Homo sapiens: one gene and its partner. The protein of the gene in region 2 purifies or fractionates together with the protein of the main gene of each other region. This does not show direct contact. Each region holds a gene or a part of one and is shown on either strand. Other genes may lie near its edges.

Evidence for each region. The genes of interacting proteins can lie anywhere in the genome.
Region 1: the proteins of FPGT (region 2) and NLN fractionate together in Homo sapiens (co-fractionation; one large-scale study listed by BioGRID). This does not show direct contact.

What each region holds. Positions count from the first base shown.
Region 1 is NC_000005.10:65,823,081-65,826,519, forward strand, and holds part of NLN (neurolysin, mitochondrial), read left to right. Parts: 3' UTR 1-3,439. UniProt on the Homo sapiens protein: Hydrolyzes oligopeptides such as neurotensin, bradykinin and dynorphin A. Acts as a regulator of cannabinoid signaling pathway by mediating degradation of hemopressin, an antagonist peptide of the cannabinoid receptor CNR1.
Region 2 is NC_000001.11:74,196,718-74,200,467, forward strand, and holds the start of FPGT (fucose-1-phosphate guanylyltransferase), read left to right. Parts: upstream 1-1,524; 5' UTR 1,525-1,561; coding exon 1,562-1,643; intron 1,644-2,946; coding exon 2,947-3,114; intron 3,115-3,750. Other genes in the region: FPGT-TNNI3K fusion protein, read left to right, coding at 1,562-1,643, 2,947-3,114. UniProt on the Homo sapiens protein: Catalyzes the formation of GDP-L-fucose from GTP and L-fucose-1-phosphate. Functions as a salvage pathway to reutilize L-fucose arising from the turnover of glycoproteins and glycolipids.

The sequences.
Region 1 (3,439 bases), on a different chromosome or scaffold from region 2:
ATACTGTGACCTAAGAAAAGACCCACTAGAAAGTAATTGTACTATAAAATTTCATAAAACTGGATTTGATTTCTTTTTATGAAAGTTTCATATGAATGTAACTTGATTTTTTACTATTATAATCTAGATAATATGATATAAGAGGGCTAAGAATTTTTAAATTGAATCATATATATGATATAATTTGATCCTTCTTGTATCTTGAAGTTTTGTACTTGGGATTTCTGGACTGATAAATGAATCATCACATTCTTCTGGTAAATATTTTCTTGGAGCTCTGTGTCAACTTTGATCCTTTGTCTCCCAGGAAGGTGTGACCTCTCCTTTGCCTGCATACCTCAAGGCCAGGGGAATATGCCTCAGTGATGCATTTATCTTTGTATATCAGGCCGCATGATTCCCAACTTTCTGCCACACTTAAATTACGTTCCTCCATTTCAGTTTTGTCTTTTCTGTCTAAAGTTCAGTCAAAGAGTATCAAAAAATTATGTTTCAGCTAGACTGGTGTAATGTATAAGTTTTTGTATCTTGTATTAGAGGATTTCGTAGCTTTTATTAGAGGCTCATTTCCACCTCAGCATACAAGATCGTTAGTCTTTTGGCATGTGTGCCAATTAGAATACTAAAGCAAGTCCAAGCACATTTTTCTCTTCTCACGTTTCTAATAAGTGTTAGGGACTTTGCCTCTTTTACTTACCACGTCCCCAAAAGTGTCAGGTAGACATGTCACAAATGGCTCTGTAGAGAGCCATGGGAAGAGAGAGGAGGTGGATGTGGAACATAAAGGGTTCAGAAACTCCAGAAGAGGAGTGGGTTTTGGATAGAAGCATTTGAGGACAGCTGCTCCAAAGCCTTATGTGTATGATGAAACTTAACCACGGGGAAGAGACTCTTCAGTAGCCTGTTCTGTCTGGTGATTTTTATTTTAAGTGAACCTTTGGATCTATCTTTAACTCTCTTTATTGTGAGTCTAAATTCCAATTCTGCAGCAGATCAGTAAACTCACAGTATTTTTCCTGTGGAAATCTATTCAATAAGGAAACCAAGACAGGATAATAAAATTTAAAAAAAAAACAACTTTGAATTCCCCTGCCTAGGTCTTCCAGTTGTTTTCCAGCGCATACCTCAGGTATGACTTTGCTAGCCGGGGACAAAATTAGCACCTTCCGATTCTCTAGTCCAAATGAACTTTGTGCTAAATAAAAAATTATTATACTACATAATAAAGTTACAGATAGCAGGAAATGCAAGAGCTAGGAGATTCCTAGATTATATCTGCCAAGCAAATACCTTAAACATCCACCTGAAATCCTACTACCCCCTCTTCTGAGATAATTTGCCCAGCCCTTCTCTTCCCACACACTCACTCAATGTCACCCCCTTCTAATCCCCAAAACTGTTTTTGTGGTCTTTGTAGCCTATAGTAGTTTTCTCACATCTTTCCCCCTAGACTTTTCTGTTTTTCAGTTTCAGACAAAAAAACTCTTCAGCTTTTTCCAGTGTGTCTCCTTAACAGTAACTTTACCACTTGAAATCTTATTTCATAGAAAAACTAAATTGGTGTGGAAAGGCTGCACACAATAAAGTTATATTATTATCCATGAAAATGAACTCATATTTCTTTCATACTTTAACGTTAAAACCGAAATGCATGAGAGCAAAAGCACCATGGTGTTCTTTCTATTTAGGGCCTACCTCTAATATTTAAAATCTACCAAAGAGCAGTCACAAAATTAAAACTCAGCCCGGGCGCAGTGGCTCATGCCTGTAATCCCAGCACTTTGGGAGGCCAAGGCAGGAGGATCACCTGAGGTCAGAGTTCAAGACCAGCATGGTCAACATGGTGAAACCCTGTCTCTACAAAAATACAAAAAGCTGGGCATGATGTTGGGTTCCTGTAGTCCCAGCTACTTAGGAGGCTGAGGCAGGAGAATAGCTTGAACCCGGGAGGTGGAGGTTGCAGTGAGCTGAGATCATGCCATTGCACTCCAGCCTGGACGACAGAGTGAGATTCAGTCTCAAAAAAAATTAATACTCAAAGAATTATCTAGCATAATTTAAAAGAAAGGACTTTTTAAAAATTCTCTAGCATAATTCAAAAGAAAGGACTTAACTTTTTTTTTTTTAGTGTGGTCATCCGTCTAGTTGTTCTTTTTTTCCAGATCAGAGCAGAGAATATCACTGACATGCTTGAAATGGTGGATAACTATGTAAATTGTAATTGGACAAATGTACACTTTAGATTTATGGACTGAGCCACATATAATAAGGTCTCTCCTGGTAATTGATCCAGGGGATTTAGGCCTCTTTCGGGTTTTTTGTTTTTTTTTTAGGCATTGTTATGTTGTGAAGGATAAAATCTTCAACATCTTATGCAAATGGATAGTAGGCATGATCCTAAAGGTTTAGTTTTACGATGCTGCAGAGAAGAGAAATGTCTTGACGTTTTGCCACCTGATGTAGACTTTGTCCCCCTCTAGTATAAATGTTGCATGTTACCTAGATAAACAACTAAAAATTGCCTTGAGTTATCACCTGAGCTACTTATGCCAAGGTCTTGCCTTTCTAAAGCTAATAAGGTGAGAGGTGGATATCTGTAGCTCTTCGGATGAAAAATTGCATTGTGGGAGATACCAAAATTGAGGAAATAGCTCTTCAAAGAAAAATTACTGATATGATCATTGTACTTGTAAATGCCTTAAGTAGCAGGCAGTGACTCAATTTTCTACTTTACCATTTTACCTTTAGCTTTTATGTATGAATTATAGGTCTGTGGAGATTCTGCCTCCCCACTAGGCCAGTGTGTGTTTACCATTTATTCATTTTCTATCATACACAGGTGGATTAAAATTTACATTAAAATTTACATTAAAATACCATCATACTTCAGGCTTCTATAACAAAATATCAGACTGGGTGGCTTCAAAAGCAGACATTTCTTACAGTTCTGGAAGCTGGGAAGTCCCACAATCCACATGCTGGTAAATTTGGTTCGTGGTGAGGCCCCTCTTCCTCTTTTACTGACCACATCCCCAAAAGTGTCAGGTAGACATGTTACAAATAGCTCTGTAGAGAGCCATGGGAAGAGACAGGAGGCAGATGTGGAACATAAAGGGTTTAGAAACTTCTGCAGGCAGCAGTGGCAGGGAGCAAGCCCTAGAGTGTCTCTTTTTACGAGAGCAGGAATCCCATCATGAGAGTTCCTTCCTCATGACTTTATCTAAACCCAGTCACCCCCAACAAAGGCCCCACCCCCTAACCCCATCACATTGGCTGTTACGGCTTCAATGTAGGGGATGGGGCACAAACATTCAGTCCATAACGAATACTGATTCCTCAAATAGGGTTTAAACATAGTTAACTGAGCCCCCAAAGAATGTTAAAAGAGAAAATCCATTTTATTTGAATAGATGCAGTGACCACAGCTTCTTCCCTCAAA
Region 2 (3,750 bases):
TTTATTGTTTTTGTCTTAAAAATATATCCAGAATCTGACCAACTTCTCACCATTCCCACTGCTACCATCCTGGTCAAGCCTTCACCAGCTCTCACCTGCAATATTGCAGTAACCTCCAAAGAAGTCTCCCTGCTTCTATCATTGCCTCATCCCCCATTATAATCTATTCTCCTATCTCCGAGTGATCTCTTTAAACATAAGCCAAGTCACTTCAAAACCCTGCAATGGCTTTGTTTCCCTCAAGAGTAAAAACCAAAATTCTTCCTATGGCCCTTTGTTCTCTCTCTGACCTTCTCTCGCTACTTTCTCCTTTGGTTACTTTCACTCAAGTCTCTGTATTTTCTAAATGTTCTTCAATAAGATACTGTTTTTTTAATTAATGAAGTTTTAAATGTAAAACTATGAAAGAGTAATCTAATCTGCCATTTTATCCAAATGTTTCCACTATTAGAACACGATTGTATAACAAGTCTGAGAAGAAAAACTAAGTAAATTTATGACAAGAGTTTATGGTGCCCTGAATGTCTACGTACCTAATGAAGACGTTGATACAGAGAAATCGTCTCAAAAAATCAAACGGTATGGTGAAATACCACAAGTTCTGGGTTTGGGATTGAAATATATTTCTTAAATCTTTTATTACTTACTAATTGTGATACCTTGACTAACTCACTATTCTCTGATTCAGTTTTCTTCTGTGTAAAGATGAAGTGGTCTGTAAAACCAAGAAACCTCGTGTTCTATAACAGGAACACCTTTATATAGCTACCCAAAAAAACACCTAAAAAGGCTGACTTATTCCTAAGAGTGTTATTGAACATTCTAGATTAATCTGCATATACAAAAGAATGCCAGAGAAGAAACCAAAATACCAAAAATATTTGGAGCCTGGTTGCGGACTGAATTTTATACAACTTTCAAAGACACTATTTGAGAGGCTGTCGTGTGTAGCCTACTAAGAAAAAACAGAGGGGTGGGGTGGCTCACTCTCTAGGAACCACAAACTTAAGGTTCCTAGAAAGAGCAGAGATTTTAAATATTCAGACTGTGTATGTATCATGACCCAGGGTTGGGGGCAGATGGCCCGGGGTGGCGGGGGAAAGGAGAGATGGCGGAGATCTTCTATCAGGCTATCCTGGGGAACTGCTCCAGGCTGAAACAAACCACCAGTTAGGACGAACCGCCTTTGATGTGAAAGCTGGGAAGCTAGAATGTAGTTTCGCCTTATCCTTAGCGGGTCGGTTCTAACAATTTTGTCACCCAAACTGAACCACTCACCGGGTCAACTGGGCTGCAAGCCCTTATGAGTTGGAGACAAGTGGCCCAGCCCCAACACAGTCAGACAAATCGCTGGGCGGCCATCTGCTCCTGAGACCGTTGCTAGAGAAACAAGACAACATCCAAGTTCTCCACATCATGGTTTTCCGGGCGCCAGCCAAGGCGCTCCGGGGGCGTGGTTACGTGGGCGACGCACGGAGGGGGCGGGTCAGAAACAACCGGGCGGAGGCGCACCCCAGGGCGCATGCGTGCTGTGCGGCGCGGTCTCAGGGAAGGTGGGGCTATGGCAGCTGCTAGGGACCCTCCGGAAGTATCGCTGCGAGAAGCCACCCAGCGAAAATTGCGGAGGTTTTCCGAGCTAAGAGGTACCAGAGAAGGCACCGGAGTTCTCCTGGGCAATGCAGAGGGAGGGTGCTTTTACGTGCCAGGAGGTTTGCTGGACTGTCACTTCCCGTTTACTTCTCATCTGTAGGCCTATGACGCTCCCCAGGAGTAGCTAGCTAATAATCCTTTTGAGTTTTTTATTCTTTTCACTGTCCCTGCTTGACATGCTTGTTGCTTACTTTATTCTTAGTAGTATAGATATTAAAAATGAGGGCGGAGGAAGAAGAAGAAAATCTTACTAGTGAAGTTATGCATTGATTAGCTCATTAATAAAAGTTGCTTTAAATAAATCTAAAAGATACGAAGCACAGTATTTTGAACTTTATGAGTAGATGCCAGCCCCCTATCTACTTCACGCTTTACATTACGTTCATCTACTTCTGTAATGTAACCGTTTGTTGAGGGAGTAACAGAACATGGAGGAATTATGGATTAAAAATTAAAAGGAAGAAATTTGTTATCAAAAAATTGGCTATGACACTTAATCCCTGTACACCTGTCTAATAAAAGTGATTATATTTGTGTTGCAGTGACTGCTTAAAAAATACTGGGACTAATTCTTGGATAACAGTAAAACTTTCAGGACTATTAGATTCTAGCTGACAAGTTCTGTTTGTTAACTAATTAAAATGCTAAATCATTTTGTTTATCAATAAAGAGATTCCAACTGTCTACTAAAAGTGCACACTGTCTTTTAAAGATGTCATCAGAGAGTTGGGACCTTCTGTTATCCAGAATTTTATGTTATATTCTAACAGCCTATGTAAGTTTGCATGGTTCATCTTAAAGTAATAGAAAATAAAGTACCCACATTTATAAACAGCAACATTGAGGGAAGGGATCTTTGGGTTGTGTCTTTCTTAGTCACCTAACACCAAGTGTCCGTGATACATAAGAATTGATTTGCAAAGCTGGAGATTTGTTTATGTTTATCTCCTCTTCTTATTGAAGAATTGAGGCAATAGTCTTTGGCAAGTTAAAAGTCGCTCTCTTAATCAAGAAACATTATGTCATTCAGAATTTATAATTAAATTGGATTGCAAACCATAAAAGGAGGGAGTGATCTAAAAGAAAAAAAAGGAACTTGTGAACAGTCTTCATTATAACTATTTTGAATCGTATTAATGCACCACTAATTATTCCCTAACTTTCAAAAGCCAAAGATACATTTTGGAAGATGATAATGGATATTACCTTCTTTATCATCTTTCTCAATAGGCAAACCTGTGGCAACTAGAAAATTCTGATAATTTTTGTTTTCATTTCCTTGCTTTTTCCAAATAGGCAAACTTGTAGCACGTGGAGAATTCTGGGACATAGTTGCAATAACAGCGGCTGATGAAAAACAGGAACTTGCTTACAACCAACAGCTGTCAGAAAAGCTGAAAAGAAAGGAGTTACCCCTTGGAGTTCAATATCACGTTTTTGTGGATCCTGCTGGAGCCAAAATTGGTACGCGCTTTATGGTCAGTTTTATAATATAGGTCCTAAGCAGAATAATCATTGAAGAAAAGGTTTCTGTGACTTACAGTGTATAAGCTGCATATCTCTACCCACAGCTTTACAAACTTTAAAATTTGAACATAAATTGACTTTTTTTAGAAAGATAAAAGGAATAGCAACTGTTCTTACCCATTATGACTTACCTTGAAAAACTTCCAGAATGTTACTTAAAAGAAAATTTTATTAGTTTTAATGAAATTCACACTATTCAGATAGGAATACTCCTTTGGACCTTATCAGTAGAACCCTTGAGGTCCTCTCCACTCCAGAGTTCCTCCAGCAATTTACATGAAGAAAGCAATTAGTGGGAAAAAATACTCTTGACCTCTTAGGGACATAATGCAGAATGCAAAAGAACACTGTCACATGGCTTAAATATAATACATATATTTGAAAACCCTAGTTTAGGTCAACTTTGCCCTTTGACCGTCCATTGCAAATAGAAATAAATGCTGTTTTTCTGAATGCTCTTTTCTATGTGATACTTAAAGTTGAAGCCCCCTGATACCAGAGATAAGATATCTGTATATGACATTAATATGACATTAGCATTATTCTAATTAGCCAACATTATTTTAATCCTTA